2 separate regions of the Homo sapiens genome follow, and region 2 is linked to region 1. Evidence: fine-mapped expression QTL. A gene starts in region 1. The other region holds a variant in brackets. All regions are shown on one strand. Distances are between the middles of the regions. Region 1 holds the start of CEP126 (centrosomal protein 126). Region 2 overlaps CEP126 (centrosomal protein 126).

The links. PIP is the estimated chance that this variant, and not a neighbour inherited with it, causes the effect.
Region 2: its variant is the best candidate, but not a certain one, in a credible set for the expression of CEP126 in whole blood (TOPMed, PIP 0.69).

Annotation. Positions count from the first base shown.
Region 1 is chr11:101,913,332-101,916,256 of GRCh38, forward strand. It overlaps CEP126 (centrosomal protein 126), which reads left to right and starts at 1,679. Exons shown (of 11, transcript NM_020802.4): 1 at 1,679-2,081. The coding sequence starts at 1,954. ANGPTL5 (angiopoietin like 5) reads right to left here. Exons shown (of 9, transcript NM_178127.5): 1 at 2,688-2,925. RefSeq lists an enhancer at 1,598-1,697.
Region 2 is chr11:101,973,493-101,976,417 of GRCh38, forward strand. All of the region lies in intron 6 of CEP126 (centrosomal protein 126), which reads left to right. Among named protein-coding and RNA genes, the nearest start is that of ANGPTL5, 58 kb to the left of the region's middle. The variant A/C (reference allele first, on the strand shown) is at 1,607.

The DNA.
Region 1 (2,925 bases):
CAATATACATGCATCAGAACTACCTTCATAAATATTCATAGCTCCTCCTATATCCTATAAATTATGTATGTTTAGCCAACTTTTCAGCATAAATCTCCTACCTCAACATCCCTCCTTCAAAGTACCTGCCTCTTTAGGCTTCAGTTGGAGGCACACTCCCAGCTTGTGGGATGGCCCTCCTTTCAGGCTGTAACCCTTTCCTCTCCTTTCTAGATTCATAAATTACGTGTTTTTTTAAGTTAACGTAAGAAAGGATTTATAGGCAATTGAGAAACCAAATTATGCTTCTTAGTGCTAATATACCAAGCCACAAAGCAGTGAGATGCCTAGGACTTACGAGATCGCAAACTAATAATATAGCAAAAGCTGGACTTCTGGAAAGCTAACCATGCCTAAATATTCCAAATAGCAACTCTAATATTCTCATATTCATCTGTACTTTGCACTGCCCTACTTTACTCAGATCACCCATGGGGAGACAAACGTGTGATGACAGCAGTGGGAATAGAATCAAGGCCATTGCCTGTGGCTAGGCCAATTAAAAACTTGCCAAGATAGCCAAGTGTCCAGTTGTATACATTTAGCTTTTCATGTCAGAATTGTATATTTTATCCTGTTGGTATGCTTCTGAAGGAGAGTTCATGTGTTTTGTGTCTTAAATCGAAACTGGATTTGTTGTGGCACTTTAAAATCTGTCGCCAGTGTACATTCCAATTTGAGTCATTGCAACCAAGTTTGCAAAGATTGTTTTAAACAGTTTCAACTGGAAAAGTTTATTATTTGAAATCTTAAAATGAACAAATTAATTCACAAAGGCAGAGACATTTGAATGGTGGGTGAATAATCTTTATTTGGTCTGTACTTTCTGCTTCCAATCTGGGAATTTTTCCAAGAAAACACTGACTGAAATACAGTCAGAATTTATATATGCATTTACATTAGGCTCCAACAATAAGATTCAGCCTTTTTCAAAACTGTCACTTGCATAGCCAATAAACTAGTGTCTCAAAAATCCATTTAATTTTCCATACTTCCCAAAACCATTTCAATGCGATGATCTCTTTTGGCATATCTTCCCAAGAGATTGCTAGTTTTGCTGTGATGGTCCATTTCCAGAATCTGGCAGCAATGCGAGAACCATTAGGAGGCTTTGAAATGTAGACCTTCTAAGTAGGGCAAAGGCAAGGAAGACGACTGCAGAGGGAATGCCAGAAGCATTACCGAGTGGATGAGAGAATGCAGGGAAGGAAAATTTCCACTTCACAAAGACATTTTAAAGAGACGGTGTTTGGGGATGATGATGCCACAGAAAGACTCACAACTCAAAATCTCACAACAGGATTCAGTAGTTTAACAAATTCAACTCCAAATTGTCCCCCAGACAATCACTGCAGACTCCTCCCGGTGGCAATTGCCTGTATCTGAGGATTTTACATCTGTCTTTCGTCACTGTCGGTACTGCCACAAAAACACTCTCATAAAAAGGGAGGCAGAACTGCATCAGGCTCTAAAACAACACTCAGCTCACCCCTCGCGCAACAACCCGGGTCCCTAGGGATGCTTGGGTTGCCACCCGCCGCTCGAAGCTGGAGGGGCCGCCGGAGCCTGCGATTGGCTGCTTCGGGCACATCGTCCCGCCCCGACCTGTAGCTCCTCCCAGGTTTCCGTTGTCAAGGACGCGCCGTCGGTTGTTGTCAAGATGGCGGCTGCAGGGTTGCTGCCGCCCCATCTGCTATTGCCCGGCGAGGTCGCCGCTGCCTCAGCTGCCATCGCCGCTACAGGCACCAGTGCCGCTGCGCGGGAGCTAGGGCTGTCGAGGCCAACCCTTCCGCGCCCGTGACGCGGGGCCTGAGAGACGGAGTGTAGGGAGGGGCCGAGCAGGAGGAGGAGGAAGCCGGAGCTGCCATGAGGGAGGTTCTGGGGGCGAGCAGACAGGCGGCGCTGAAGTGAAGGATGCTGGCGGGGAGGCCCGGAACCCGGAGCGCGGTCGGGGAACTGGGCACTGAATCATCGGACAACCTCGACAGAGCCCCCCTCGGCCCTCGGGAGAGCGGCGGGCATCACCGACCTGGCTCTTACCTGTATCCTTCCCAGCCTGTGGCTGCCAGGGTAGCGATGTTGAAAACGGGGCCCATCTTTTTCCAATTAGATTCCCATTACCTTTGACGCAGGGTGATCAAAACTAGCAAGTCATCTTAGTGCAGATATTTCCTTTAGCAACTGTCGTGTCTCACCTTAGACCTGAAATTATACCATTTTATCTAATTCTGTGGCTGCTTCCCCCCATCACCCTGTTATCCTACTCCCATTCTTCAACTTTGTAAAATTTTTGTGAATTTTAAAACACATCAACTGTGTATTCTGTGGGGATATTTTTATGCCATTATGTTCTTTACTTACATATTAACTACTTCCTGATTTATCGTACTACTTGGAGAGAGAAATTACACAAATAAGTAAAATGTTTTGCTATCCTAAAGAGTCCGTTTTAACAGTTATCCTAACACAGCCCTAAATGCATTTACCAGAGCTGCTAAAGGCTACACAGTTTGGTAAGTTGTTTTGTTTTCCATCTCTGCCCAGTCTGTTGTCAGAGCGACAGAAAAGAGGAAATGAGAAACAGGGGACCTGGACGCTTTACAATCTGGATTAACTCTGACTTTTCTCGAAGAGTTGGTTAAGCCTACCTTTGATGTTGCTGTTGGTTGCATTGTAGAAAATGGAAAGAGGAGAAGTATTTTGTTATCAAAATCTGTAAATCAGGTTTATTCCTTTAGAGACTGTTGTGATGATTAGGATTTAACCTTTGTATTCCCAAAGGACTTGGTTGGCAATGATGGTGTTGTGTAATCATCTTCAGTCTTGTCAGAGATGAGTGTCTTCTCTTTCCAAGTTAACTCTGTTTTCTTATCCCCTTTGTCTCCA
Region 2 (2,925 bases), 60 kb after region 1:
ATAACACACACTAGAGTCTTGGAGTGGGGAGGGGAGAGCATCAGGACAAATAGCTAATGCATCCGGGGCTTAATACCTAGGTGATGGGTTGATAGGTGCAGCAAACCACCATGGCACACATCTATCTGTGTAACAAACCTACACATCCTGTACATGTATCCTAAAACTTAAAATTTTTTTTAAAAAGCAATAAATTAGGTTTTAATAAAAAGGCATAGAAAAACTTTAGCCCTATTTGTCTGGAAACTGAATATAATAAAAATGCAAATGTATTCCTTGAAAAGTTTCTAATTATGATAACTTATATTGTCCTCATTACTAATTAGTTGAACATTTTATATGTTTATGCATCATTTGCATTCTCCTGTGAAATGTCTGCTCTTGTCATTGCCTATTTTTCTATTTTTTTAAATTTCTTATTGATGGAAGTTTTTTACATATTGTATATACAGATCCAATATAGATTATATGTGTTATAATTATTTTCTGCCAATTTGTGATTGGTATTTTTACTCTTTCTAATGACTAAAAGTTTTTCTCAATGTGGTCAGTTCCTTTATGGTTGCTGGTATGTATTTAGTCTTTTTTAAATCAGTTTTACACTTCTAAGAAGGCAGATACCTGTTTTGATAACTCTTCTTTGTTAAACACACACACACACACAAAGCAAAAAAGGTTTACCATAGCTGTTACAAGGTCACTATAATTTTGGACAATAATTTTAGGCAGTAACAAGCAGATCTTTAGAAGTACTGCTATACTCTGTGTCATTTTATAATATATATTTTAAGGAATTATAAACAAACTGGGATTCCCCGGGGCTATGAGAGGAGAGGTTCAGTCTAAAAGTCAGTTAAAGAAACACAAGCCTAAGAGATATGATAGCTATGTACAAATATTTGAAGGCTTATGACAAAGAAGAAGGAGTAAACAGAACTGAAATGAAAGGGTAAAAATTGCAGAGAGGTTTTCAGCTCAGCATAAGGAAGGATTTGAGCTATCCAGCAAAGGAAGAGGATGCCCCCATGAGGTAGTGGCTCCTAAGATTTTTTCCAAAACTATAATTTTGAGAATGTCTCCGGTATTTTTTCATGTGTTTATGATTAAGAATACTACAGATTTTTTTAAATATAATGCTTTATTGAAGATTAGTAGCTTTATTTTGAGTTTGGTAGTGAAACTATCCTATCTAGAATTTTCATATGAAACTAGGAATTTGGCCAGAGATACCAGTGCAAGCTACATTATTTTTGCAAAAATAGCAAGGTTCTCAGCTTTTGTATTAATTGTTAGGTAATATTTAAGCACATGTATGTGAATAGAAAAATACATAAACAGTTTTAAGTATATACTGTGTCTTTAACTGCGATCAATAATCTACAATCCACAAAACTACAAAGAACAATAAAGCACAAAGATAAATAATGCAATCAAGAAGTACAAAAGTGACTTCAGAAAATTGATGAGCAAACTGAGGGATGAGATAAAACCCTGACACAGCAGTTAAGTGAACAAGGAAATTTTTATGCAAGGTGTTTAAAGCTTTTTAGATAAAGATGAGGACTTCTCAAGATTTAGAGGAAGAAAATTCCAAGAATAGAAAACA[A/C]CATAGAAACTGTATTGCTGCCAAAATTATCTTGGTGGAAACTATAACATTTTGCATATATAGCATTTAGCATATTGATACAGGTGGAAATAAGCATAATACAGTGCTTTTTAAACTGTGGGACATGACTCGTTCGTCAATTGTGAAATCAACGACTGGTAACCAGTATTTTTTAAATGAAGTCTAATTTTAGAATTAGAATATTCTAGAATGGAAACTACCAGACGGTATCATACGTTGTGAGGATAAATATATTTTATAAAACTACATATGTCTCCAAGGTCACAATGCAAAATATATTTATTTCTGTGAGACACAATCAATCAGAATGAAAATTACTAGCATATGTGTAAGAGCTAGAAGTTTAGATTTTAGAGCCCAACTAATTGGAGCTGAATCCCAGCTTTGCCCCTTACTGGCTCTGTGACCTTGGGCAAGTTACTTATCCTCCCTCCTGCCTTAATTTCTTTTTTGTTGTTGTTTCTTTTCTTAACTTTTATTTTCGGTTCAGAAGTATATGTGCATGTTTGTTATATAGGTAAATTGCATGTCACTAGGTTTTGGTGTACAGATTATTTTGTCTCCCAGGAAGTAAGCATAGTACCTGGTAGGTAGTTTTCCAGTCCTCACTGTCCTCCCACCCTGCACCCTGAAATAGGCCCCAGTGTCTGTTGTTCCCTTCTTTATGACCATATGTACTCAAAGTTTAGCTCCCACTTATAAGTGAGAACATGCAGTATTTGGTTTCCTTATGTTCTTGTGTTAGTCTGCTTAGAATAATGGCCTCCAGCTCCATTCATGTTGCTGCAAAGGACATGATCTTTTTTATGGCTGCATAGTACTCCATGTTGTATACGTACCACATTTTTATCCAATCTACCATTGATGGACATTTAGGTTGATTCCATGTCTTTGCTGTTGTGAGTAGTACTGCAATAAGCATACACATGCACGTGTCTTTATGGTAAAACAATTTACATTTCTTCAGGTATATGCCCAATAATGGGATTTCTGGGTTGATGGGTACTTCTGTTTTAAGTTCTTTGAGAAATCGCCAAACTGCTTTCTACAATGGCTGAACTAATTTAGATTCCCACCAGCAGCATTTAAGTATTCCCTTTTCTTTACAACCTCACCAGCATGTTAATTTTTGGCTTTTTAGTAATAGCCATTCGGGCTGGTGTGAAATGGTATCTCATTGTGGTTTTGATTTGCACTTGTCTAATGATTAGTGATGTTGAGTATTTTTTCATCTTAATTTCTTTATATGTAAAAATAGTGATGATAATAGTGCCTATGGCCCTTAGAACAATACCTGC